Homo sapiens: one gene and its partners. The protein of the gene in region 3 purifies or fractionates together with the protein of the main gene of each other region. This does not show direct contact. Each region holds a gene or a part of one and is shown on either strand. Other genes may lie near its edges.

Region 1 (6,891 bases), on a different chromosome or scaffold from region 3:
AAGCTCACATTTCACATGTGAGGACACTGAGCTAGATAGGTGAAGACACTTGTCTAATGAGGCACAGCCTGTTAAATGACAGGGTTAAACTAGAACCCAAGTTCTAGGGCCTATTACACAGTGGCAAGCCTAGAAATGGATTCTGGAAATAAAGCAGGGTAATGTCTGGGAGTCCCCAGGGCCATCATTCTGGCAGATGAGGTGGTGGGGTGGGGGTTGCAGAAGGGTTAGTTCCCTGAACAAAGGACCTCTCCACATCACCTTGGATAAATAACATCAGTCCCAGGAAAAAGGAAATCACATTGCCACATTTTACCTTGTCTAGGAAAATCCTACCTTGTCCTCTCTTGTATAAACAGAGCAAAAACACTGAAGATACAATAACAATACACAGTGAGAACACTACCAGCACACTCAACAACCCAGGGTAGTGAGTATGGAGGCCCATTGGCATGTCTGGAAATAGAATACACATGTATTCTGACTTACTAGGAAATAGCCCCAAGAGGCTGGGGTGGCTTAGCATGCAGGAGCACTATCACAGTTGAGTGCCCTCCAGGGGAGTTCCAAAGCCCCTAGGGGAAACTGCACTTTCTGCTCTCAGAAGTCAGGATTAGAAACTGAATCAGAAGGTCGAGCAGAGGCTGTCTCAGAACATCCTGAAATGCTTGGCATCTCTCTGAAGGCCTTGGGCTCTTTCCCAGTGGGCTTCCTGGGAGGAAATGACCCCAGTGACCAGGCTCAGGAAAAAGGAGACACATTCCCCCAGCCTCAGGATTTGCAGCTCTTCAGAGTAATTTCAGAGGCTTGTGGAGATTGGGACAGAACCTGTTACCTGCACAAAGCTTCCAGGCAAAGATGGAGTGAGAGTTGTTGTCGGTTCCCGGCTGTACAAATTTAAGTCAACTCTTGGTTATCTGGGTTCTGGAAGTTGCTAAGGATATCACCCTCTTCTTCCAGGGGACTCCAATTGTATGTCACATCATTTTCTTCCTTCTCTGCAGAGCACATTAGTGTGACATTTACAGGTACTATTCACTGAAGTCATTAAACTCTGGCTTCCCAAAATATGAGCCAGTGGTGCACCAGAGCTGGCTTGTACCAGCTTGTGAGAACCAATTGTTAAATTTCTAGAAATTCTGCAAGATGGTTGTTAAACACAGCCATCATTTAAAATTAAATTATAAAAATTTACAATTAAATTCTTTTAAAGGCAAAGGTAATAAATATTCAAAATTTATCACCTTCTAATTATTTTTCGACATTTGAATGTTACCTATGCTCTTGAGGTTATTTACATCGATTGTATCTGTGTGCTACTGGGCATGTCCTCCCAACTCGACATGGATTGAAATCAGCCATTGTGGGAGTATCCAGGCTACAGAAATTGGTAGATGCTACAAACTACGGCTTGATCTATGTTTGTCACTCTAGACTTGAAAGCAATGGAGAAAATGTTACTAATGCAGATTCAGCTTAAAAGTGAGTTGTGTCTGTAGCCATTATTGTGAACAGCACCATAAAATGAGGCAATATTTTTCTGGTATTTGAAAACCATTATCCAATTCAGCAAATAAATCACTCACATTGTTGATGAATGATCCAAGTACCAATATAAAAATAATTGTTGAATTACTTTTTTCTTATTACTTAACATAAATGAAAATATCAAGCAACATTCATGTCAGAACTACACTAGTTCATCAATTGCAACTGTAGGTTGTCTAGGGAGATATGTATTTGGCAAAAATCAAAAGCATCCTGTCAGAATTGGTTATACAGAATTAACGATAAAGAGTATTGTATATTTTATTATCACTTATGAAATTGTGTGCTATACACCTTTTACATCAATACAATTTATAATAAATATATACCCCCTTTCTAAAGAGAATTAGTTGAACATTTATCAGCACAACACTACGTGAAATGATTGTTTAAGTTGTTCTGTTTCCTGTTGTATGCGTATTTTCTTTACATTTTGTTTTGTTTTGTTTCAAAAGTGTCCATGGTGAAAAACTACAACCTTTTAAAGTCTGTTTTAAAAAATGCTTTTATTAAAGCAATCTAAAGATAAGCTGTAAAAGGTGTGGGCTACTGAAGGGTTGCTAAAGACCAATCATATTTAGTCAGGTAATAGCTAGATTTGGATCTGGCAAGAGGAAGGTTTTTTTTTTTTTCTTTTCCTTTTTTTTTTTGCTAAGAGATAAGAAAATGACCACCTATAGAGTTGATAAGGTTAGTGTACTCTTGGAAAAGCTGCTGCAGCCATGGCAGGAAGGAAAGAATTGGTATACAACTTTCTAATTAAGAGAACACTAGAAAGGAAATATATTCAGCAGTATAAATAAGGGAATCTTCTGTTTGTACCTGTAAGGGAGTAAAACATGAGCGATAAGCTGATAAGGCTTTTGGCTCCAAAAGAAAAACCTGGCCCGAAGTGTCAAATACTATATCTCTTAGAGGGATTTATTCCAAATTAAAATTAGTGATAATTTGGAGAAATATTTCCTAAAGTTTGAAGTAAGTCCTTGATTGGTTCTAACAATGATTAATATAGATAGGGATCAGTGAAGTTGAACAAAATTTGCATGTGTATCTGATATCTCAATGTTTTTCTGTAGAAACGTTACCTACTTTTCAAAAACAAAATTTTTTTTTGGAAGGCACTGAGGTGGGGGAGAGTGGTGAAGAATAGAATTCCCATATACTTTTCTCTCCAGGAACAGAGACATTATCTTACAAAACTGCTGACCAGAAAAGGTCAGAGTCATGGTTAGCTAACATGTCTTCATCCTCCCAAGCCAAATCGCATAGAAGCCACTGGAGAACTAGTTTGGAATTCCGGCTTCACTACTATGTAGTTGTAGGATTTTGGAGGAGCTGTACAGGTTCACTGAGCTTTAGTTTCCTCATTCACAATATGACGATACCAATTTCTTCCTCATATTATATCTAAAGACATATCTATGTCTATATGCTTGATCGTACATTATGTGCGGAGATAAACCGGTAACAGTGATTGCCTCTGAGAAGAGAGACTTACTTTCCATTGCGTAATTCTTAGGCTCATGGTAGAATTTGTGCAAGTGGATGAAGCACTGCCTCACTGGGAAACACTCCAGTGAAATAAAGCACAGAAAAGAGCCCGAAGAATAATTACTTGGTTCTGTATGACACATGTGCTTTTAAAGGGTTGTAGTGTAGGATGACATTGGGTAAGTCCATGGGCCTAGAAGCCTAGGTGGAGTTCTTAGGATTTTGTATGTAGACTATGAAGTTTTGGAAACGTTTGAGCTGGAGAGAAGACATTCTGATCAAAGGTGGCTTTCAGGAAAGGCTGGTGCGACAGGCAGGGTATTTATTAGAATGAGGCCAGTGACCACTCTGAAACAGACACAAAGTAAGTTCCCTTCAAGGGGCAGGAAGCTCCCTGGGATGGTGAGACCAGAAAGGCACAGAGGCTGAACCCTCGTGATGGCGCTAGGTCCCAGGTTCGCTAGCATCCGAGAGAGGGGATTGGGTCGCTCCAGAGGCCATTGCGAAGGCTGCTGCCAGTTCTAGGGTCGGGGTGGGGTCAGGCTAGGTCCCTATTCCTAGGGCTTTAGCACCGCTCACTCACAAGACCCCTTTTCCCAGGAGGACGTATGGGTTTTTCCTGTCGCTCCAGCTTCTCTTTCGCGGCCCTTCCACGCTTGTCACTTACCTGAGCGCAGCCAATCAGCACCTAGAGGTTGGGCTACTTTCGGCCAAAGGAGAACGGGGACTTGTGGGGGACGCTCCCTGCGCACCAATGAATGTGCATGGAGATGGAGAGGCGGGCCTGCAAGTGCGAACAAGCCAATCACGGAATCCCGGCGGCCGGCGGCCCGGGAGGCAGTCGCGCGCTCGCATCCCCAAGATGGCGGCCGTTAAGGACAGTTGTGGCAAAGGAGAAATGGCCACAGGGAATGGGCGGCGGCTCCACCTGGGGATTCCTGAGGCCGTGTTTGTGGTAAGAGGCACGCTGTTCCCTGGCATCTTGGCTTGAGGCCTTGGACTGCCCCTTTCTTCCCGGCTCCCACCCAGGCCTCGACTGTTGGAAGGAGCTGAGCCAAGTGTTCAGGGAGGGGGCGCTCGGTCTGCTCTCACCCCTCGCACCTGGACAGATTGAGCTCTGCTGGGGGCCCGCCCGGAAGAAACGTAGCTCGAGAAGGCCGTAGAAGAGAACGGGGTGCGGGGCCGGGACGAGGGGCGAGGGGCGAGGGGCGGCGGGTGGCAGGGCAGGGCGGCCTGAGGGACCTCCGGGCTGCCGCCGGTTTTCGTCCCCCTGCTGGTTGGAAAAGGGGAGGTGGTGAGGAGCTCTCGACTCAGCATGGATGCTGGAGACACAGTACAATGAATAGGCAGAACAGCCAGTGCTAAGATGTGAAAACCGGGAATATCACTTTGTCTGTTGAAGGAATGCAGTGGTCTCGGGAATGTTGCCTCGGGAAATGGAAGAAGAGACCGATGGGAAAATAGGATGATAGGTTGGGAGTGTAAAGTCCTTCTGTGTCTTGCTAAGGAATTGAGGTTTTCCAGTAGGCAACGGGCTGTCATCAGAAGGCCTTTCGTTTTAACTACATCATTCTAACAACTTAGTGGAGAATGAATTGTTGAGAGAGGAGGCTGAACCCTCCTGATGGCGCTAGGTCCCAGGTTCGCTAGTGTCCTAGAGGGGATCGGGTTGCTCCACAGGCCGTTCTGGAGGGCGCTGCCTGTGCTGGGTGGCTTTTTAAAAATTTTATTTTATTTATTTAATTTAGAAATAGTAGTTGAAAACTATTTGACTAATGAGAGAAAACATCTGACTGGCCCTCCAGGCCAGGTCATCTGTCTGTCCCCACTTAGCTACTATAAAATCTTCATGGAAGTTTCTCAATCTTTTGGTTTGTACCTTACCTTACCTCTGCCTTTTTTTTACTAACTACGTCTTATATCCTTCTAAAGACTCATTTATTTATACCACACTTGATATTGTATATTCGCATTTGCTGATTGAATTTCGTAATTGGTTATTATTTTGTGTTTTTATGAGCTGTGTCATTTATTTCTCTACATTGATCTATTATCTAACCATAACAAGGAATAAAATTTGTTGAGTGCCAGGCACTTTCTTAATGATTTTACAAAACTCGAGGTGGTAGCTACTACTGTTATGCCCGTTTTTTAGATGATAAAACTGAGGTACGGGGCACTTGAGTAACTTGCCCCAGGCCACACAGGATGTAAGTGAGGTATCCAGGGTTTGAACTTGGACAATCCGTGGAGGTCCAGACTGGCAGCTTACCCCTCATGCTCTGCTACTGGGAGGAGGTGAGGTAGTTCTCATGAATCGCCCTACTTCTCCTGGTCATAGCATAGTGCCTCACACATAGTATAAGCTCAAACTAAGTGTCTAATTGAATTTCCATAGGGCCTTAAATGTTACATTCATGGTGCTCAGCTAGAGATGGCGTCAGAAATCTAACTCGGGAGGAGACACTTTATCTGAGGGCTTTATAATGTCTTGAAATGCTTTTTCCCTACAATGTCGTGGTTATTTTTTTCTAGACCTTAAAATTTCTACCAACATAATGTAATAAGCAACCCAAATTTTATATAACTGTTTATGTTTCCAAACTATTAATAATTGAAGTGACATGGTATTGTAGAAAGATTATTGGCCTCTAAATAGACCAGGGTCTGAATCCTGGCTCTGCTTCCCAGTTGCTGCTTAACCTTAAGCATATTATTTTACCACTTTGAGCTTGAGTTTCTTTAACTGAAATAGGGATGACAATACTTAGAGAGTTGTTATGGGAAACAGAGAACATGCTTGCAGTATTGCAGTGTAGTAGGTGTCGAATAGGTATTAATATTCATGATGATAGGAAGCAATATACCATAGTGGTTAGAAGTCAGACCCAGTCCATTCCCCAACCCCGCTGAGGCAGTAATTTGTTTTCTTTCTCTGCTTGAATTGTTGTTTCACCCTTGTCCATTTCATGACCTCTTCATCTTTCCACATCTAGTTCAGATATCATCTCCCTGTAGTTTTCTCTGACCTCTACCCCAAAACAAAATCCCTGGCACTTTGTGTCCCTGTGGCACATTATGCTATACATAGGTGTCACGTACTCTTATAAGCGTTTCACATATGCTAACTCATTTAATCCCTGGTGACGAAAAGGTACTTGTACAGATGATGAGGAAATTGAGGCAAAGAGAGGTTAAATAACTTCCCTAAGGTCAACTCATCTAATGAGTGGCGAAGCTGGGATTCAAACCAGGCACCTCCTGTCTCTTAACCACAGCCTATGCCGCTATAGTTAATTCTTGCTAAACTCCAGCACCTGATAACATGTATCATGTGCCAGAAACTTACACTTCTTTCTCTTCCCTGCAGTGACCCTTCTAGGAAGATGGCATCTCTCTTTAACATACAGAACTCAGCCATTATCTCTCAGCCTCACCTTTTCAATTTCCTTTACTGTCTAGTTTGATGGCTTCTTAGTTCACTCCCTTGCTGTGTTTCTCTTCCTTTTTCTTCCTTGTTTCAGCTAAGATATTCTCTGGTAGCTAGTAAATATGGATAAGAATAATGATGTGAAGATCTTAGAAGCTATAAGATAATTGAAGTTACTTATAATAAAGAACTAGAGTTCTGTAAAGTACTAGACGACTCTTGTAGCATCTCTTTTAAGTTTCATATATTTTCATCTTGTTTCTGATCCTTATCTAATTAACTAGCCTTTCTTCAAGGATCAGCATGTGGTATAAAAAATATTTTAACATCAGTTTTACTGCTTTTCTTTTGATCAGTTATTACTGTTACAAAAGATTATTCTGTTTGCCTTTTAGGTTTACTTTGTTTCAGTTATTTGATAC
Region 2 (7,052 bases), on a different chromosome or scaffold from region 3:
CCTCTGGAAGGGGTTCACCTTGTTACTGAAGAGACTCTTCTAGAATTTATATGAACATGGGAACACAGGTGGTATCTACATTTAGTGATCAATATATGTTGACTCCTACTATGTGGCAGGCTGTGTTTGAGGCCCTGGCGATACAACAGTGAACACGAGAAACAAATCCTCTGCCCTCATAAAGCTTACAGCACATTTCACTTTTACTACCTGCTGTCCCCCTTCTAACAGGGGAAGGGAAAGGCTGACATACATCAGATGGTGATGTTCGTCTATGGAGAAACACCAAGGAGGTTGGGGGAGAGTCACAGTTTTAAATCAGGAGGTCTAGGAAGGCTTGCCCGAGTGGAGTAGAGACTCAAAGGAAGAAGCCAAGTGTGGGGGAAGAAGGTTCCAGGGAGTGGGGATGTCCCGGTGTGCTCAAAAACTCACAAGAACAGCAGGGCTGGTGCAGAGAGCAGCAGCTAAGGTCAGAGCTGAAAAACGGACACCATAAGGACCGTGGCTCTTACTGAGTGAAATGGAGCCACTAAGGGCTTGAGGGTGAGGAATGATATGCTTTGACCTTTGGTGGTGTCTTTTTTTGTTTTTGACATGGGTTCTCCCTCTGTCGCCCAGGCTGGAGTACAGTGCCACGATCTCAGCTCACTACAACCTCCGCCTCGTGAGCAATTCTCATGCCTCAGCCTCCTGAGTAGCTAGGATTACAGACATGCACCAGCACACCTGGCTAATTTTTTGTGTTATTAGTAGAGACTGGGGTGTCGCCATGTTGGCCAGGCTGGTCTCAAATTCCTAACCTCAGGTGATCTGACTCAGCCTCCCAAAGTGGTGGGATTACAGGCGTGAGCCACCACACCTGGCTGCTTTGAGTTTTGAAAGGATCTCACTGGCTGCTGTGTTGAGAACAGACTACTGACTTCTAATAGCAGCGACTTCTTTACCTTGATAAACCACAGCAACTCCTCCAAAACACCCTTCCAGAACACACGTTTGGTTGTCAGCAGAGGGAATTCATCTGAAAAACAATTTGCCATACGGTTTCAAGATGGGAAGACAGATCATGCCATCCAACTTTCTTCAGGGAAGAAAACTGCCCTGGGACGTGAGGCCCTGGAGCATCCAGAAAGCCTAGACTCCCGCAAAGTGGGCCAGAGATCACGGTGGAGCTCCCAGGCTGCAAGTCCCATCAGTGGCCCGATTCAGGCTGAGACAGCACTTCTGTGCCCCGGTGACCAGTGGACACAGGAATTCCACACAGTGAGATGGTGGCGAGGGCAGGGATGAACATGTGGCAAAAGGGAGGAGCTATCATCCACTGCCCACTAGTGCTAATCCTGTCACAAAGGTGTGAAGACAACACCAAGCATGTGTCCCAGGAACAAAAAGGGAGGCATCAGAAGTGTCGAGCCACAGAGAAATGAAAGTGTAAAAACTTATCTTTAAATGCAGTCCTCGTTCATCCGCACTCGCTTGTGGTACAGTTTATATTCAGACAACAGAGAGATTTTTGCAAGCACCTGCTTTTATCAGAATTGCCTACTAAGCATTATTTTCTCCATTTTTAACATATAGGGAAGCTATATGAGAAGTAACTTGCTCAATGTCTAAGCAGAAAGGTGGGTTAAAAATGAGGTCTATGGCTCATCAAAGGCCCCTGGGCTTGGAGCTGCAGAAAAGTGGATCCCTCTCCTCAGACAAAACTCCCCACGCTGTCCCACGCCAATCAGCCACAGCAGCTGCTATGTATTCGTCTCTAGATGGGTCCGTGGGCCGGAGGGCTTTTCCGCTAGCTACAGTGAATCTGCTTCACCACGAATGGGTTTCCCCATTCAAAACCACCTCCACCCCTGTGTCAAGGCTGCGCTCCATTTATCTGAGCGGTCAAGGTCAGCCCCTGGCTCACACACCTTCGAGTCCCCTCCCCCGCGCAGCTGGCGCAGGATCCAGGACGGCAGGACGGTGTGGCCTTAGGGAGGGCCAACGGCTGCCTAACGTCCTGTGCCCACCCCGCCCCGCCCCACTGTCCCCTGAAAGCCTGGCGCCAATGACCCGCGAGACATTTTTTGCCTGGGGTGCTCCTGTCGGAAAGGAAAGAGGAAAGGACGACTAAGAACTTATACTCGAACTCCCGAATTTCTCTTTTCAAGGTTTAAGAGGAAAGCTGGTTCGTGGGGATTGGATGGGAGGCCACCAGGAAACCAAGTTCCCGCGCCAGCTTCAGTGCTCTCCTCTTCCCGCCGCCTTTGCCCCGCCCACATCACTTTCGCTCCAGTTTTTGAAAACGCTGCGAAGCGGAATGGTCCACAGGGGAAAACGGAGGAGGGGCCAAAGCCAGGACTTTGAGACCGGCGCGCGGTCAAGCCCAGGCAGCTCTCCCTAACCCTCCAGCACTGGGCAAACGCTGCCCGATGACGCCCGCCTCGGGGGCCACGGCATCACTGGGGCGACTGCGAGCCCGGCCGCGGAGCCGCTGGGACGCGGCTTACCTCCCGGCTGTCGCTGCTGTGTGTGTTGCCCGCGCCAGTCACGTCCCTAATGGGACCCTCCGTTTCGGCGTCTGTAAGGCGAGGAGGACGATGCGTCCCCTCCCTCGCAGGATTGAGGTTAGGACTAAACGGGGTCCGCAGCGCCCGGCAGCTCCCGAGCGCTCTCCCCAGCCGCGCCTCCCTCCTTCCCGCCACCCGTCCCGCAGGGGCCCGCGGCGTCACCTCTCAGGCTGTAGCGCGCCTGCATGCCGAATACCGACAGGGTGCCGGTGCCCGTGCGGTCGTCCTTCCTGACGCCGCAGCGGAGGATGTGTTGGATCTGCCCCAGGTACTGCAGCTCCCCGTGCGGCGGACGCGGCTCGGCGTCCCGCTCCTGTGCGGCGGGGGGCAAGGGCCGGCGCGGCAGCTCCGAGCCGGCCACAGGCATGGCGCGGCGGGCGGGGGACGGAGGCAGGCGAAGTGGCGCGGCGGGACGGAGGCAGGCCAAGTGGCGCGGCGGGACGGAGGCAGGCCAAGTGGCGCGGTGGCAGGACCCCTTCCGCGCGCCTTTTCCCGCGGCCGTCCCGCGCTCCGCCTCTTCCTGCTCGGCGGGGTCGCGGCGGCCCCCGCTCTAGAGAGCGTGCGCCAGGGGGAAACGCAGGAGCCACGGGTGTGGCACAGAACGGAGCCCAGGGCCACAGCTGAGAGTCTTAGGAAACCCGGGAACCTGGATGCAGGTGCGGTGGCTGGGAAGGACTGCGCCCTTTGGGAACCGTCTGGTCGACCGCGCCTTCTCTAAGCCAGCAGCACAGTTCCCACGTTTTCCTGCGGTCTTGTCAACAAAACTGCTGTTTGAGATCTGTTTCCTACAACTAATAAGGGATTTGCATTTCCATTTCTTCGTTCTCACTGAAGCAACCGAAGCAAGTGGTATAATGCAGCTTTTCTACTTGATTAAAAACCGCCAGGGCGCTGGACGCGGTGGCTCACGCCTGTAATCCTAGTACTTTGGGGGGCCGAGGCGGGTGGATCACCTGAGGTCAGGAGTTCAAGACCAGCCTGGACAACATGGTGAAACCCCCGTCTCTACTAAAAGTACAAAAATTAGCTGGGCGTGGTGGCTACTTGGGAGGCTGAGGCAGAAGAATTGCTTGAACCTGGGAGGCAGAGGTTGCAGTGAGCCAAGATCCGACCATTGTACTCCAGCCTGGGCGACAGAGCAAGACTGTCCCAAAAAAAAAAAAAAAAAAAAAAAAAAGACCGCCAGGGCTTTTCCGAGGTTTTTTGTTTGAGCCCTGGCGGTCTTTTTTTTTTTTTTTTGAGACAGAGTCTCGCTCTCTCACCCAGGCTGGAGTGCAATGGTGCGATCTCGGCTCACTGCAACCTCCGCCTCCTGGGTTCAAGCAATTCTGCTGCCTCAGCCTCTCGCGTAGCTGGGACTACAGGCGCCGCCACCACGCCCGGCTAATTTTTTTTTTTCATGTTTAGTAGAGACGGGGTTTCGCCATGTTAGCCAGGCTGGTCTCAAACTCCTGACCTCAGGTGATCCACCCACATTGGCCTCCCAAAGTGCTGGGATTACAGGCGTGAGCCACCGCACTCGGCCCCAAGTTTTTAATAGACCACATTTCCCAGTTTTACTGAATTGTTTATAACATTAACACTGGGGAGTGGGAACTGTTGATGAAAAGAGTTAAACTCTGTAAAATATCTGAAGAAATTTATTCTGAGCCAAATATGAGTGACCAATGGCCGGTGATAGAGCCCTCAGCAGATCCTGAGAACATGTCCCCAAGGTGGTTGGGCTACAACTTGATTTTTTATACATTTGGTTGAAAGAATTGTTATCTAAAGATCTGGAATCAATAGAGGGCTGGGCGCGGTGGCTCACGCCTGTAATCCCAGCACTTGGGAGGTCGAGGCGGGCAGATCACGAGGTCAGGAGATTGAGACCATCCTGGCCAACATAGTGAAACCCTCTCTACTGAAAATACAAAAATTAGTGGGGCGAGGTGGCACACGCCTGTAACCCCAGGTACTCAGGAGGCTGAGGTAGGAGAATCGCTTGAACCCAGGAGGCGGAGGTTGCTTGCAGTAGCTGAGAAAGCGCCACTGCACTCCAGTCTGGGTGACAGAGCCGTATGGGGAAAAAAAAAAAAAAGATTTGAATGAATAGAAAGGAATATCTGGGTTAAGATAAGGGGTTGTGGAGACCATGGATTCATCATGCAGATTAAACCTCCAGGTAGCAGGCTTTAGAGAGATAGATTGTAAATGTTTCTTGTCAGACTTAAAGAGTGTGTTCTACCTGTCTTGAGGCCTGTGTTGATGTCAATGCTGGTCAGCTGTGCCTAAATTCCAAACGGAGGAGGGAATAATGAGGCATGTCTGGCTCCCCTTCCCATCATGGCCTGAACTAGTTTTTGTGGTTAAATTTGGAATGCCTTTGACCCAGAGGAGTGGTCTTTTCAGATGGTTCTGGGCGTAGAATTTTATTTTTGGTTTACAGAACGATTTTATAATGAGTTTAAAATGCACTGATACATGTGTTGTACTTGCAAGCATCCTTTTACCTCAACGGTTGATTGAGTACAGAGGTGCTCTCAGCATTTTGGGTGGGACTTTTCTTAGCTGGACCGGTTTGTTCTGCACATTGCAGGGCTTTAGCAGGACTGTGGAAAGCCAACCATATGTTGGCATTCCCCCACCCCACACCAGCTGAAAACTGTCCCTACACGTTTCCCTACACGTTTCCGAGCACGAGGAAGATCCCAGGCTGAAAATATTCCAGATTATCCAGATGCACGTTATCTGTGTTTAATTTCCTTGTGTTATTCTTTTTCCTTTTTTTTTTTTTTTTTTTTTTTTGAGGTGGAATCTTGCTCTGTCCCTCAGGCTGCAGTGCAGTGGTGCTCAGCTCACTGCAAACTCCGCTGCATGGGTTCAAGCAATTCTGCCTCAGCCTCCCAAGTAGCTGGAACTATAGGCGCCTGCCACCATGCCCAGCTAATTTTTTTTTCTTTTTTTTTTTTTTTGCATTTTTAGGAGAGACAGGGTTTCACCATGTTGGTCAGGCTTGTCTCAGACTTCTGATCTGAAGTGATCTGCCCACCTCGGCCTCCCAAAGTGCTGGGATTAAAGGCGTGAGCCACCATGCCCAGCCTTACTTGTGTTATTTTTTAAAAACCTGATACATAATAATTGTGAGGTAGACAGGGCTTGACTCTGGAGGCAGGGCTCTGACATGGGACCAAATTGAGGAGTAGTCAAAACAAGGATGGGGCAGAAGTAGTTTTCCATAAGACGTGCCCACCAGTGTGCCATGTCAGTTTACGATTGTCATGGCAACATCCAGAGCTTACTGCCCCTTTCCATGGCAGTGAGCCGACAACCGGAAGTTACCACCCTTTTTCTAGACATTTCTGCATAATCTGCCCCTTAATTTGCATGTAATTGAAAGTAGGTTATAAATATCACTGCAGACCTGCCTTTAAGCTACTGCTGTCAGCACACTGCCTATAGGGTAGCTCTGCTCTACAGGGGCACTCAGGGAGCTGTTGCCATATCAGTAGAGCTTTTCTTCTACCAGGTAGCTCTTAAATTCTTTCCTGAGCAAAACCAAGAACCCTCCTGAGCTAAGCCCAATTCTGGGCTCACCTGCCCTGCATCAGTTGCACATCCTTGTGTGTTTTTTTTCTTTCTTTCTTTTTTTCTTTTCGACGGAGTCTCGCTCTGTCACCCAGGCTGGAGTGCAGTGGCAGAATCTCAGCTCACTGCAACCTCTGCCTCCCAGGCTCAAGCAATTCTCCTGCCTCAGCCTCCCGAGTAACTGGGATTACAGGCACCCATCACCATGCCCAGCTAGTTTTTGTATTTTTAGTAGAGATGGAGGTTCACCATGTTAGCCAGGCTGGTCTCGAACTCCTCACCTGAAGTAATCTGCCTGCCTCGAGCCTCCCAAAGTGCTGGGATACAGGCGTGAGCCACTGCACCCGGCCCCTTGTGTTATTTTGAGGCTGGTTTATTTGTTTCACCCAAATACCAGCTAAATCACATCTCAAGACTAGGCTCCTCTGCCCACATGGAGCTTCCACTTCTGCTGCCTTCCTTGAGTATCTTGGCTTGATAGTAAAGACAGAATGGTTCTTTTCAAAGTAGTTACTCCATAAATGTTGGTTAGAATGAATGGTTCTCTCAGACAAATTTCATTCATTCATTCATTAACACACATTTATATCATGGTGCCTTCCTCATGTCTACAAACAGCAAGACAGACAAGGCCCTTTTCTTCATAGAACTGATATTCTGGCAGTGACAAACACTACAAAAGTAACCAAACAAGACATCTGCAGATAGTGACAAGTGTGATGATAGTAAATTAATGGGTATAGCACTAAACAGTGATTGTGTAGAGGGTGCTTTAGATCTGATCACCAGGAGGCCTCATTGAGGAAGTCACATTTGAGCTGAGACCTGAATACTGGGAAGAAACCAGCAGGGGAAGATCTGGGGAAAGAACATTCCAATCAGCAGGTGCATTTATACCAGTAGGTGCCACAGTGCTTGCATCTATAAAAACATCCC
Region 3 (7,024 bases):
CAAATGATGGAAAACAGTATATATAGCATAATTCCTATTTTAAAAAAAGGTTGTGTATATATATGCATGTATGAATGTCTTGATATAAATATAGAAGTTTGGAATGATACAGAAACCGTAGAGGTGACATTTGGATGTACCGAGGGTGGAAAAACAAAGTAATATTTTCATTGTTTAATCATTTGTTTTATATTTTATTTATGGTGTACTTCTATTGCTTTTATAATGTAAGTAACATGTAAAATGAAAAATTAAAAAAGAAAAAAGAACTTCCTAAAAGATAAAACATTCTACCAGTATTTGAGACACTCAACAAAAGGAAACTTGCAGAAAGTAAATTTCTTAATATTCACCAGAACTCAGCAGTACGGTATTGATAAAATCATCACCTGTGGCAATTTCACCTTGATAATTGGGGTTTTTGTGTTTTTTTTTTTCCCTAAAGAGACAAGGTCTTGTTATGTTGCGCAGGCTGGAATGCCTCAGGCAATCCTCCCGCTTCAGCCTCCCGTAGCTGGGACTACAAGCATTTGCCACTGTGCCCACTCTGCTAATTTTTTAATCATGAAAGTTAACAACAAAAAAAGTTAATGTATACTTGTTATAATTTATTATTACAGAGATTGTAAGAAAAAAATCAAGGCCAGGCGCAGTGGCCTATGATTCCCAGCACTTGGGAGGCCGAGGCAGGCAGATCATCTGAGGTCGGGAGTTCGAGACCAGCCTGACCAACAAGGAGAAATCCCATCTCTACTAAAAACACAAAATTAGCAGGGCGTGGTGGCGCATGCCTGTAATCCCAGCTACTTGGGAAGCTGAGACAGGAGAATCGCTTGAAGCCAGGAGGCGGAGGTAGCAGTGAGCCGAGATCACACCATTGCACTTCAGCCTGGGCAACAAGAGCGAAACTCCGTCTCAAAAAAAAAAAAAAAAAACAAAAAAAGAAAAGAAAAGAAAAGAAAGAAAGAAAAAGAAAAAATCATTTATCCCTACGTCCCATCTAATTTCTTTAGGGTAAACAGTATTAACAATTTAATATATATCCTTACATATCATCTTCAATATTCATACACAAATGTTTGTTTTTTGTTTTCATAAAGAGAATTATATACATATTACCTTGCTACTTATTATTCATTAGGATAATTTTAAATATATTTACCTACAGTTGCAAAAATGCATTTTGTTTTATCTACATGAAATGATTCTGTTTGGGTTTTTAAAGATACTTTTGTTTCTTATGAGTGAAAACACAGATATCAAACTGAACCTCTTAGAACAGTTGAGCTGATTAAAATGTTAAAATAGGACACAACAACAATCTGGTTATCACAGGCTGTTTTTTCTTTACTTGGTTTTTTTGCTTTTTTGTCTTGTTTTTACAATACACTTTTCTAAGCTGCAAATCTATTATCAAGTTTGTTTCAACTATCAGTAGTTAAAAATAAGCCTAAGTAACCTAAGATACTGCATACTCCCAGGCCAGGCCAATTCAGTGCCCCTAAGAAATCCTCAGGAGGCTACAAGTTGTAGCTCCCAAATTCAGCAGAGGGCTGAGTTAGATTCTGATCCTCTGCCTCAAATAGTACTTACAGAAATTAGATGAAATGACCTATGAAGTCAATGTATCCACCCACATGTTGGGAAATCTTGGTCCCTAAGAAATAACCAGCTTTTTGTCCAGTCTAACTTTTACTATACACAGGATGGGCCTTTCACCAAAGCCCAAGAAGAATATCTCACTAAAGGTCTTAATGTATAAATAAATTATAATAATAAAAATAATAAAGTAATATTTCCAAAGATTTGCTTACTGTTACCTATCATCTTTTTCCCTAGCTAAAAAGAAAAAATTGTTCTCATTGGAGCACCATCCTTCAGATAGTTAATTGGTTATAGCTTGCTACTTTGTCCTTATATAGAACCTAATTTAGGTTAAAGAAATTACAATGTGTAAAAAAGACCCTATACCAAGATCCTCTAAAATTTATCATTATTACCCACTCTCCTGCCCATCCACCACAATCCACTACACAAGTGTTGTTTAAATATACATTACATTTTGTTTATGGTTTTGTTTTTTTTAAAGAATAAACACATTCAAGGGCAATGAACAAAATACATTCAGGTTAAAACCATCTCATCAAAATTCTCTGCAGTTCCAAAGAAGAGACTATTCTTTTTTTTTTGTTTTGGTCTTATATGCGCTATGAATATGAATATGACAGCTTCACGGCTCCAACGTAATTATAGAAAATAAAAATAATATGACATTACTTTGGCAGGCAGGCATACATTTTCATTTAATATGACACAATAAGATTACTACTTTCTCCCAAAAGTTAACTCCTATTGCCAATAAAAACTTACTTCTAGTTCTTTAATTTTTTCTTCTGCTATTTTCTGCTTCTCTAACAGCTGACTGTGAATTGCTTCCTTGGACTGAAGAATAAACCTATGAAACACAAGAAAGTTGAAAATTAAGCCACATGACTATTGAATTCATCGAAATCAATAGCTACATACTACAAATATTAAACTGAGCAAATTAAAAGGACAAATGCATATTAACATAATACGTCAAGCTCAGGAAACCACCAGAAGTTTAAACCTTCTTGGCTGAGAAGGAATAAAGGCTTAAAAGTAGATTCTGCTTTCTTATTTAATATAGGAATCAGGCAGGGAACAGTGGTGTGGGCCTACAGTCCCAGATACTCAGGAGGCTGAGGTGGGAGGATTGTTTGAGCCCAGGTGTCTGAGTCTAGTCTGGGCAACATAGCAAGACCCTGTCTCATTAAAAAAAAAAGCGGGGGGGTTGCGGGAGTTGGGCACAGTGGCTCACACCTGTAATCCCAGCACTCTGAGAGGCCGAGGCAGGAGGACTGCTTGAGCCTGGGAGTTCAAGACTAGCCCAGGCAACATGATGAGACCCATCTCTACAAAAAATAAATTTAAAATATTAGTCAGGCACAGTGGCACACGCCTGTAGTCCCAGCTACTAGGGAGGCTGAGGTGGGAGGATCAATTGAGACTGAGATATCAAAGCTGTAGTGAGCCATGATTGTGCTACTGCACTCCAGCTTGGGTAACAGAGCAAGATCCTGTCTTAAAAACATTAAAAAAAAAAAAAAAAAGAAAAGAAAATCAGGCTTCAAGTAGATTCATATGTAAAAGAAAAAATAATAAAGGAATAAAAATATATCATACGCTAAGAGAAAAGTCAACATACAAACAAATACCCTATAAGTTTTGTTTTTTCAGTTATCTGTTTCAATTTTTATCTAGATATTTTTTAAACTATATTTGTAAAGTGGAGCGCCCCTCCATTTTTTTTTTTTTTTTGTAACAGCAGTAACTCATGACCTTTTAAAGTCACAATCAAGCACTGTGTTAGGATCAATGCATTAGTGTTTATATGAGTTCCTCAAACAAAAAGCACTGTATAAGCCTTAGTATCTTTTATTATTATTTCCAGAGTGTATATAGTACCTCTGAAAAGCTCAAAATGTACAAGTGGAAATTTTCAACTTTTTCCATTTTACATCAGGCACATTATTTACCACTGATGAGGGTGGAAATATGGAGAAGTTTTAAAAATTAACACTGAAACTGTTTTATGACTTTATGTTCACAATTCTTGCTTCAGGGAAAGGAAGAACAAACTTTTATAGCCCCAAGTAAGTGAACTGAAATATTTCCCCTCCACTGGAACCAAGGGAAGACCCCAGTTATGCAAATCTCTTTCAGGACTGTCTAAGGAAGCTAAAATATATTTCAATTTAATATTGCAATTAATTAAGCAAGATTTTTCTTCTCTTTGCACTAACAGAGTTCAGCAACAAAGAACTAAACATCATCTCTTAACAAAAAGTCAAACGAGAAAACACATCAAGGTAGCAACATGCAGTTTCCTCTGCCAACCCCACAAAAACATCATTGTGCCTAGGTGGGTTCTTATCAAGAGAGTCCGTTATTATAGATATAAGACAAGTAAAAACAGACCAAAAAGGGCAATTAGCTATGCCCCAACACCTGGAAGGAAACTGCCTTGTCCCCTCTTCTTCATAACTAAGCCTTACCACACATATTAATAAAATCTGAAGAACTTCTTTTACTCCACTAATTATTAAGCTTATATCCTAATGCGGCCAGCCCAGATAATTTTTTTTTTTGAGACGGAGTCTCGCTCTGTTGCCCAGGCTGGAGTGCAGTGGCATGATCTTGGCTCACTGCAAGCTCCACCTCCCGGGTTCATGCCATTCTCCTGCCTCAGCCTCCCGAGTAGCTGGGACTACAGGCGCCCACCACCACGCCTGGCTAATTTTTTCTATTTTTTAGTAGAGACAGGGTTTCACCATGTTAGCCAGGATGGTCTCGATTTCCTGACCTCGTGATCTGCCCGCCTCGGCCTCCCAAAGTGCTGGGATTACAGGCATGAGCCACCACGCCCAGCCCAGCCCAACTGATGATCTTAGTCTTCAGTAGTAACTTGATTCTTTGTAAAACCTTACTGTATATTTACAGGAAAGAGAGCCCACATTCATGCAAAACAAGGATTAATTCCAGGTCTTTTACTATAGAACCCTTCATGTCTAAAATATTCTTACTGGATCCAAGAGATGGGTGCTATTTCAGATAAGATTATGGTTTACAGAATATTTTTCTCAGAACTAACTCATATTTGTATTTGAAGAGAAGAGTTGTTTTGAACAGTACTAAGTCTCAGTAATGTTATGTAAAAACTATTCTAAAACAAGGTGCAAGAGTCACCAAATTATGTCATGACATGTGTGATTTTACTGAGAAAGTCTTTTAGCCATGGAAATAATTTTTTGAGTAAAATATACATTTTTAAGTAGCACTGATAGCTGGCCAATGAGTACTATTCTCAAATAAAAGGTCATCAGACATCATCTTTATTAGTGTCTGGGAAAATTTCAAAGCTAAGATTAGAGGTCAAGTCATTACTTATGTGGCCTTTAAAAATAAAGTATCTGAACAGATACTAAATCTCTTGAGCAGAAAATAAAATTACTAGAAAGCAAGAACACTCAACAACAAAAACACGTTTTTCCATGACCACATATCCTTTGAGGTAGCTATACTGGACTGTGCCAACTTCAAAGGCCAGAGAGATTCCACCGAAGCTGGCCAACTTACTACTACAAACCTAAGGACATCTCAGCCACGCAAGTTTTAACAAGGATGAATGTTGGGTAAATGCAAATGTCTACCTCAAAGAGTAGTTACACAGTAAAAATTCAAACACAAAAACTTATGGAAAGTTTGGTTTAGTCCTCAATTTAAAAAATGGCAAAGATATATTGTATGAAGACTGGAAAAGGCTCCAAGAAACATCTGATTTCTGAAAAAAAGTCTTTGGAAAACATCTTTCTTATTGTTTAAAAGGGCATTGGATTATCAGATACTATGTGAAGAGAAAGGATTTATCATGATAATATAAGTCTTATCATAAGCAAATATTATGTACACAGTTGCTCAATGTAGAGAATCTCATAGTCATTCTGCCTGATTGTTTATGGAAAGCCAAATAGTAAATAAAGAATTCTGGAGTTCAAAATGTACCAATAAGGAAAAATAAACCATGAAGAGGGAAAGTATTCTCTCATGACAAATAATATGCAGATAACATGCTTAAAATACTCAGGATTATATAACCTGAATTCGAGTTGATGCTTTGCAAAAGGCCTCTTCTTTGACCTGGAAATCAGTGCCACGTGCCTCTGCACTGTCCACTCTCAAGGACTTGTAACCTGCTATTTCACTTCCTCATTTATTTGTAATTATGCCATCTGAAAACATAATTCTGAGACTTTCGGTTTTGATTATTTGAGAAACATCAGACTCCGTTTTCTAAATCATCCTGCAGTTTGGTACAACTTCCACTTTCTTATAACTCAGTATGAATCAAAACCATTGTTCACCTGCCCAAAACACAATCCCAGATCACTTGCACTGCTGCATTTTGGACACAATTTCCAAAGTATGGTCACCTAGACATATGCTATTCAGAAACAACAAAATGCTTATGACGAGTTCACTTTGGGTGGGAAATTTTTAGAGGGTGTCTAAAAACGTATCCTATTAGCATTTAGGTTTCAGGGTATTCACAAATTAAGCAGCATAGAAAAGACATAAGAATGAGCCTATCTTCAGGAGAATGGCGTGAACCCGGGAGGTGGAGTTTGCAGTGAGCCGAGATCGCGCCACTGCACTCCAGCCTGGGCAACAGAGCGAGACTCCATCTCAAAAAAAAAAAAAAAAGAATGAGCCTATCTTGCTTCTTTGCCTAACTCCACTGGTGAGGAAAGTTACTGAATTTTTACGTCGTAATTTTTAGCGTGGAAGCAAGTAGAAATAAATTGAACTTCTTTTTTTAAAATTTTTTTAAATTGAATTTATTTCTTACTTTAATCACTTCCTTAGTAAGGAAGTGATTAAAACTTTATGGCACATCCACATTGTGGACTGCTCAGTGAGTTACAGACTTCTGTTATTGGCATAATGAAGAGTAGATACCCTGAACACTCCTGATTAGAAACAAAGGAAAAAAAAATTTTTTTTTAACATTTTGTTGAACTAACACAAAAGGAAGGATTCCACAAAGGTCCAAAGTGAAGTGAAACTGGGAATTCAGGAATGTAAGACAGCAGTAAATTGGCTTTCATCCTGAGAGTTTATGCTGAATCCTGGAGACCTTAAGTATCCACACTGGCACAGAAATAGGATACAAAACAGGAGATAAAACCAAGGGGGCAGCCAGGCATAATGGCATGCACCTGTAGTCCTAGCTACTCAGAAAGCTGAGGTGTGAGGATTGCTTAAATCCAAGAGTTCAAGTCCAGCCCAGGCAACATAGCAATGCCCCATGTCTAAAAAATAAATAAATTTTTTTAAAAAAGAATGACTAATTAAATAAAAAACCAAACCGAAATTTAAAAAAAAATATTTTTTTTATTGACATGTAAAGATGTCAATATAGTAAGTTAGTAAGTAAGTAAAA
Region 4 (7,538 bases), on a different chromosome or scaffold from region 3:
AAAGCAGGGAAGGGGGCCAGGCCCAGTGGCTTGCACCTGTAATCCCAGCACTTTGGGAGGCCAAGGCAGATGGATTGCTTGAGCTCAGGAGCTCGAGACCAGCCTGGCCAACATGGTGAAACCCTGTCTCTACGAAAATACAAAAATTAGCTGGGCATGGTGGCAGGCACCTGTAATTCCAGCTTCTCGGGAGGCTGTAGCAGGAGAATTGCTTGAACCTGGGAGGCGGAGGTTGCAGTGAGCTGAGATCGCCGCACTCCAGCCTGGGTGACAGAGTGAGACTCCATCTCAAAAAAAAAAAAAAGGATAGGCCCCTTGGCTTACGCCTATAATCCCAGCACTTTGGGAGGCCGAGGCAGGTGGGTCACAAGGTCAAGAGGTGAAGACCATCCTGGCCAACAGGGTGAAACCCCATCTCTACTAAAAATACAAAAATTAGCTGGGCTTGGTGGCACATGCCTGTAGTCCGAGCTACTCAGGAGGCTGAGGCAGGAGAATCGCTTGAACCTGGGAGGTGGAGGTTGCAGTGAGCTGAGATTGCGCCACTGCACTCCAGCCTGGGCGACAGAGCAAGACTCTGTCAAAAAAAAAAGAAAACAGGGAAAGGGAAGAAACTGGACTTAATCCTTTCCCAGCAGCTATCATGAATGAAGATGGTGCTCACCACCACTGTTTCCCTGCAGATCATGCTCAGTGGTGCCGGTGCCCTCACCCCTCAGGACATTCAGGCCCTGGCCTACGGGCTGTGCCCAACCCAGCCAGAGCGAGCCCAGGAGCTCCTGAATGAGGCAGTAGGACGTCTACAGGGCCTGACAGTACCAAGCAATAGCCACCTTGTCTTGGTCCTAGACAAGGTAAGGAGCTGGGGCAGAGGGGCAGTGTCTAGTGGGGAGTGAATACCAACTCATCCCCATGCCCCTTCTGACTTCTGCATATACCTGGCTGGGGACAGTAACCTCTTAGTGCTTTTTGCCCAGGACTTGCAGAAGCTGCCGTGGGAAAGCATGCCCAGCCTCCAAGCACTGCCTGTCACCCGGCTGCCCTCCTTCCGCTTCCTACTCAGCTACTCCATCATCAAAGAGGTGGGGTTCAGGGCGTAGTGTCTGGGGATGACTGGCGACTGGGGAAGACGTCAACAAAGAAGGGCAGAGAAACCTGAGAAGATAGGAGAGGGTCCTAGGAATGGCTCAGACATGGAAAGGGGCTGAGATTGTTAGAGCTTGGGCCTCTTGGTGAGACAAGCATCCTAATCGCCAGTGTCTCCTCCTCAGTATGGGGCCTCGCCAGTGCTGAGTCAAGGGGTGGATCCACGAAGTACCTTCTATGTCCTGAACCCTCACAATAACCTGTCAAGCACAGAGGAGCAATTTCGAGCCAATTTCAGCAGGTCAGGGGCGCGAAGACAAGAAGACGTGTGGGGAAGGGTAGACAACATACAGGGGCAACAAGCCTTTTCTCCAGAAACAGCTGTTGCAGCCCACCTTCTATCTAATGATCCCTCTGCTGTCTTTGCCACCTGACCCCTGCCATGCATTTCCCTATTCTCACACCTGCCTTTTCCCTGCAGTGAAGCTGGCTGGAGAGGAGTGGTTGGGGAGGTGCCAAGACCTGAACAGGTGCAGGAAGCCCTGACAAAGCATGATTTGTATATGTGAGTGCTTAAGGCAGGGATGTGGGGAGAGGGGCAGTCCTGAGGATGGTATCACCATGGGTTGCTTTGGGACTTGAGAGCCTCTGAAGACACAGGCAGAGGCCAGGTATTACTAGCTCAAGACTCATCTCACCTCCTTCTGCCTTAGCTATGCAGGGCATGGGGCTGGTGCCCGCTTCCTTGATGGGCAGGCTGTCCTGCGGCTGAGCTGTCGGGCAGTGGCCCTGCTGTTTGGCTGTAGCAGTGCGGCCCTGGCTGTGCGTGGAAACCTGGAGGGGGCTGGCATCGTGCTCAAGTACATCATGGCTGGTTGGTGAGTCTCCAAGGGCAAGACCCATCCTAGGGCATTAGGACTCCTGCCCTCACCCCAGGTTCTTTCCCAGGTCTGAATCTTGCCTCTCTTGTGCCCCATTTTCCTCCTATCCTAGTTAGTTCCCTGGCATGCCTGGACCATTAACCCTTAGCTCCCTTCTGTTCTTCTCTTGTAACCAAGGGCCAAAGGAGTTTCTCATTGGTTCAATCCTCTCCACTCACCCACCCCCACCACCAATGGTGTTTTCCTATGTATTCTGTTTTAGAGCCCTTACTTTGTATTTCCTCCTTTTCTTTTCCCAGCCCCTTGTTTCTGGGTAATCTCTGGGATGTGACTGACCGCGACATTGACCGCTACACGGAAGCTCTGCTGCAAGGCTGGCTTGGAGCAGGCCCAGGGGCCCCCCTTCTCTACTATGTAAACCAGGCCCGCCAAGCTCCCCGACTCAAGTATCTTATTGGGGCTGCACCTATAGCCTATGGCTTGCCTGTCTCTCTGCGGTAACCCCATGGAGCTGTCTTATTGATGCTAGAAGCCTCATAACTGTTCTACCTCCAAGGTTAGATTTAATCCTTAGGATAACTCTTTTAAAGTGATTTTCCCCAGTGTTTTATATGAAACATTTCCTTTTGATTTAACCTCAGTATAATAAAGATACATCATTTAAACCCTGTTTTGCGTAGTTTATCTGAGAACATTTAAAGACACGGCATGACTGCCCCCTTCCTACTATGTGGTACTGTAAGCTGACAGGAACAGGTTACAGCAGATCAAGTTTGAGTGCTTGGGGAAGAAAGGCAAAGACACAGGACAAAGCCTGCTGGGCCTGGCTGGGCCTCAGCAGACAAATCTGGAGGAGAAAGGGGCATCAAAATGCTAAGTAGAGACAGGCCCAAGGAAGGGTAGTGATAGACCCTTTGAGAGTGTTTTGGCCAGGTACCATCCGTCCGTCCTGTCTTCCTGCCGCAGGTATCTTTGGAGTGGCACTAGTGTTTTGTTTTTTGTTTTTGTTTTTTTTTGAGACAGAGTCTTGCTCTGTTGCCCATGCTGGAGTGCAGTGGCGCAATCTCGGCTCACTGCAACCTCTGCCTGCTGGGTTCAAGCGATTCTCCTGCCTCAGCCTCCTGAGTAGCTGGAACTACAGGCACATGCCGCCACGTCCCACTAATTTTTGCATTTTTAGTAGAGACAGGGTTTCACCATATTGGCCAGGCTGGTCTCGAACTCCTGACCTTGTGATCCACCCTCCTCAGCCTCCCAAAGTGCTGGGATTACAGGCGTGAGCCACCGCGCCCAGCCATGGCACTAGTTTTAATGCCTCAGTTGCCCTGCCTGCCTCCTAAGTAGATGTTAAAGGCTACTGCTGTCTGCCCATGTACACCTGTTACACTTACCAATGTGTAACTTTAGCAGTAGAGTCTGTGGATCTGTGGAGTTCTAGTGTGGTTTTTCTCTCCAATTGTTAAGCTCAAGGGAAGCAAGTATCTTACACTCTCACGTATCCCTCACATACAGCACATGGTAAAACCTTTTTTTTTTTGAGACAGAGTCTAGCTCTGTTGCTAGTGTGCACAATCACAGCCTACTGCAGCCTCAACTCTCCAGCTCAAGCGATCCTCCCACCTCAGCCTCCCATGTAGCTGGGACTACAGGCGTGTGCCACCAGCCCGGCTAATTTTTGTATTTTTTGTGGAGACGGGGTGTCGCCGTGTTGCCCAAGCTGGTCTCAAACTCCTGGGCTCAAGCAATCTGTCCTTCTCGGCCTCCCAAAGTGCTGGGATTGCAGGCGTGAGCCACCATGCCCGGCCAAAATATTTTATTGATTAATTTGTGCTGTACTTGGTTGACAATGGCGCTTCCTTGCTGTTCTCCCACCACCTCACTGGCAACGGGTGATAAACCCTTTTTCAGATCCTACTACGTGTCAGCCTACTTCCGGCTGGGGGAAGATGGTTATAGCGAGAGGGGAAGAATTGGTTCAGTGATGAGAACATGGTTGGTTCCTGCCTTCGACAAGCTTTCAATCTAATGCCTGTTTTTTTCCAAGGACAATTCAGAACGGTCTGACAAGGGATTTTTTTTTTTTTCCTGCCTTTCGGCCTCAGAGGCCATCTGGGAAAAAGAGTTTAGAATTTCCCTGCCATTTCCATGCCGTGCTGGGAGGAACATTTGAAATCGGGCCTGGCGGGGTACCAGCAGGCAGCAATAGCAAGCGGGGTGGAGAGGAGCAGGGCCAGGCCCCCGAGCCGTCGCCATGGCAATCCAGCCTGCTTTCCAGTAGCTTATACCACCCACGTGGAGTAGCATACACTACTTTGTAATATCGTGGTTGTGTCGTGAGAACTTTAAGATTTTGCAGTTCCTTGTAGGCAGGAGTCCTGTTTGCTGCTACTTTACAATACTAGGCTTAAGACATTTTATGAAATGAACTCACACAACAGTCTCTGAGAGGCTCAAGCCCCTCCTTCCCTTCCGGGACGGAGGATCATAGAGCTGTCTGGCGCAGCGAGGCCTCCCGGCGCCACCGAGACGCGCAGAGGACGGCTAGAGCGTTGCTCGCCGAGAGACTTCCTCTTCGTTAAGTCGGCCTTCCCAACATGGCGCAGTCTATTAACATCACGGAGCTGAATCTGCCGCAGCTAGAAATGCTCAAGAACCAGCTGGACCAGGTGGGGACGGGCCCCAGAGGCACCTCTTTCCTGCTCTACATCCCCCTTGCCCACGCGTACTTCTCGCGCCCGGTTCCAAGTTGGCAGCCTACCTTTCCCAGGCGAAACCTCTATCCGATCCCAGGACCTGCCCCCTCCCCGGCCGCGCTCCTTTCTCCCCTTAGTCCTCTCATTGACCCGCTATCCCGGTCCTCTGTAGGAAGTGGAGTTCTTGTCCACGTCCATTGCTCAGCTCAAAGTGGTACAGACCAAGTATGTGGAAGCCAAGGACTGTCTGAACGTGCTGAACAAGAGCAACGAGGGTATGGGGTAGGCGGGTGAGGGTAACCTAAAGTGGCGAACCTGCTTCTCTCGTCCCACCTCCTAACCCAGTTTTTCTTACCTGAAACGAGAAAATCCATTACATATCGTATACCGCTTCATGAACCCTTTGCATGTTGCCTGCCTAGAATTGAAAAGTACAGGACATTCCTCTGCTCCTATTGCCCCTGTTTCCGTTCTTTTCACACTGTCTGTGGGTGCTGTGCCCTGTTGGAACTCTCTTTAACGTCTTACGTTGGAGCCGCTAACCTTCCCCAGGTGTTTGTCTTCATTGCTTTCACAGGGAAAGAATTACTCGTCCCACTGACGAGTTCTGTATCCTTTCCACAGGAACGGCTACCTGCTGCCTTCTCCCTTTCTCCTTCACTCCCCCAAAAAGCGGGGAGGGGGATTGTTTTGATTACTTCAGATTACCCTCTCCTCACAATGATTTTGAGGATACCCTTTTTTTTTTTCTTTCTTTTTTGAGACGGAATTTCGCTCTGTCGCCCAGGCTGGAGCGCAATGGTGAGATCTTGGCTTACTGCAACCTCCGCCTCCCGAGTTCAAGAGATTCTTCTGCCTCAGTCTCCCGAGTAGCTGGGACTTTAGGTACGCGCCACCACGACCGGCTAATTTTTGTATTAATAGTAGAGTTGGGGGTTTCACCATATTGGCCAGGCTAGTCTCGAACTCCTGACCTCGTGATCCGCCTGCCTCGGCCTCCCAAAGTGCTAGGATTACATTACAGGCGTGAGCCACTGCCCCCGGCCAAGAATACTCTTATTACACACTTTGTAGCTCTTTTATCTGACTTCACACCAACATCCAGCTAATGTCTTGTGAACACCAAGGAGTATGTATAGTTGAGATGTAATATTTCCCTTTGCTGTTTGAGAACATTAATATGGAGATAAAGCTGGTGGTTTACACTTTGCTAATATCTTAGAAGATACAGGCAATAGACAAAAATAGGAGGATATAGAAACAGGGAGCTTGGCTCTGTTAATCTTCAACTTCAGCTTAATTGTGGCTCATTTCTAAACTGTCACTAAGAAACCTGGATTGTGTTCACTTGTTCAGTGTTTTATTTGAATGAGCAAGTTATGGCAGTAGGGCATCTTTAATCTGTAGTCTCAGAACTGACAGGCTAAAAGGAACACAGGAATAGTAGTGTGTAGTAGGGAATGGTTTAAAAAAAAAAATTAGCCAGGCACAGTGGTTCACGCCTGTAATCCCAGCACTTTGGGAGGCCAAGGCTGGCAGATCACCTGAGGTCAGGAGTTAGAGATCGGTCTGGCCAACATGGTGAAACCCTGTCTTTACTAAATATACAAAAATTAGCCAGGCGTGGTGGCACATGCTTGTAATCCCAGCTACTCCGGCGACTGAGACAGGAGAATTGCTTTAACCCGAGAGGCAGAGGTTGCAGTGAGCCGATAGCGGGCAATTGCACTCCAACCTGGGCGATAGAGCGAGACTCTGTCTCAGAAAGCAAAAAACAAACAAAACATTGACTTTGTCAGGAATTAGCTACTTCATGATTGAGGGCATTAAGGGAAATGAGGCTGGCTTTTTACTTGTAGTACTCTACAACAGTAGGAAAACATGTCTAGTCTTTCTGGAGGGGCTAATGGGAAGAATTGCAAGAACTGCTTAGAGAGTGAGAGATGGGATGAGGCAGGACAAGAGGGTGTTCCAGCATACATCATTTTCTCCTTAAAGAACCAACTTCTCTGTCTTCTTTCCATTTGGAGTTATAGGTATTGTTCTAAGGCCTCCAGATTATTCAGTCCTTATGCCTTGTAGCTTTTTGGAAAAAGAGGGTCTTTGGAGGCCAAGCAGGCTGGCTGGCGGAATCATGGCTCATGCTGGGCTGGCTAGTTTTTCCCTTAATTCTTGCTTCTCAGATGTATGTCCCTGGGAAGCTGCATGATGTGGAACACGTGCTCATCGATGTGGGAACTGGGTACTATGTAGAGAAGGTGAGTGAGAGCATGTGGATGCCCCTCTAAACAGGGAAGGGAAATTCAGGGGAAGCTCTAGAGCGCAGCATGGCCAGAGGGAGTCTCCTTTTAGCCCCTTATTCACCTCTGATCTTGTAGACAGCTGAGGATGCCAAGGACTTCTTCAAGAGGAAGATAGATTTTCTAACCAAGCAGATGGAGAAAATCCAACCAGCTCTTCAGGAGAAGCACGCCATGAAACAGGGTAAGTTTTTCCTGGGGCACCTCTTGACCCTATCTCCATAATAAGGAACATGGATTGCAGTGTGAACCACGGGGGTGTCCCCTTTGCTGGAGTAAAACTATGTCTTAGTTTCTCTTTGGCATCTTTAGAATCTGTGTATTGCATAATCACTATCTGTAGATTCCTGGGTTGAGCGTTTGAGAAATTTAGAGGAAGGAAATCATGTTTGTGCTTTGGTGGAGCTCCTATTTAATGACGATGGAATGGGGGAATGAGATGAACACACAGGAAGGAATCATGATCCAAACGAACTAAATACCAGCAATTATAACCCCGACTGCACATGAGAATCACTCAGGAAGTTTAAAAAGAAAGCTTGGGCCCATTCCAGATTGACTAAATCAACTTGGAAGTC

What was found.
Region 1: the proteins of PFDN1 (region 3) and VBP1 purify together in Homo sapiens (affinity purification with mass spectrometry; 5 studies listed by BioGRID and IntAct, with this or other methods). This does not show direct contact.
Region 2: the proteins of PFDN1 (region 3) and TYMS purify together in Homo sapiens (co-immunoprecipitation; 2 studies listed by BioGRID and IntAct, with this or other methods). This does not show direct contact.
Region 4: the proteins of PFDN1 (region 3) and PFDN5 purify together in Homo sapiens (affinity purification with mass spectrometry; 7 studies listed by BioGRID and IntAct, with this or other methods). This does not show direct contact.

The regions. Positions count from the first base shown.
Region 1 is NC_000023.11:155,212,582-155,219,472, forward strand, and holds the start of VBP1 (prefoldin subunit 3), read left to right. Parts: upstream 1-3,901; coding exon 3,902-3,994; intron 3,995-6,891. UniProt on the Homo sapiens protein: Binds specifically to cytosolic chaperonin (c-CPN) and transfers target proteins to it. Binds to nascent polypeptide chain and promotes folding in an environment in which there are many competing pathways for nonnative proteins.
Region 2 is NC_000018.10:653,607-660,658, reverse strand, and holds the start of TYMS (thymidylate synthase), read right to left. Parts: upstream 3,007-7,052; 5' UTR 2,917-3,006; coding exon 2,712-2,916; exon of another isoform or gene 2,368-2,711; intron 1,019-2,367; coding exon 945-1,018; intron 1-944. UniProt on the Homo sapiens protein: Catalyzes the reductive methylation of 2'-deoxyuridine 5'-monophosphate (dUMP) to thymidine 5'-monophosphate (dTMP), using the cosubstrate, 5,10- methylenetetrahydrofolate (CH2H4folate) as a 1-carbon donor and reductant and contributes to the de novo mitochondrial thymidylate biosynthesis pathway.
Region 3 is NC_000005.10:140,279,079-140,286,102, forward strand, and holds part of PFDN1 (prefoldin subunit 1), read right to left. Parts: intron 2,456-7,024; coding exon 2,371-2,455; intron 1-2,370. UniProt on the Homo sapiens protein: Binds specifically to cytosolic chaperonin (c-CPN) and transfers target proteins to it. Binds to nascent polypeptide chain and promotes folding in an environment in which there are many competing pathways for nonnative proteins.
Region 4 is NC_000012.12:53,291,007-53,298,544, forward strand, and holds the start of PFDN5 (prefoldin subunit 5), read left to right. Parts: upstream 1-4,535; 5' UTR 4,536-4,561; coding exon 4,562-4,633; intron 4,634-4,832; coding exon 4,833-4,935; intron 4,936-5,237; coding exon 5,238-5,269; intron 5,270-6,843; coding exon 6,844-6,918; intron 6,919-7,038; coding exon 7,039-7,144; intron 7,145-7,538. Other genes in the region: ESPL1 (separin), read left to right, coding at 684-854, 978-1,082, 1,272-1,387, 1,568-1,651, 1,800-1,964, 2,267-2,468. UniProt on the Homo sapiens protein: Binds specifically to cytosolic chaperonin (c-CPN) and transfers target proteins to it. Binds to nascent polypeptide chain and promotes folding in an environment in which there are many competing pathways for nonnative proteins.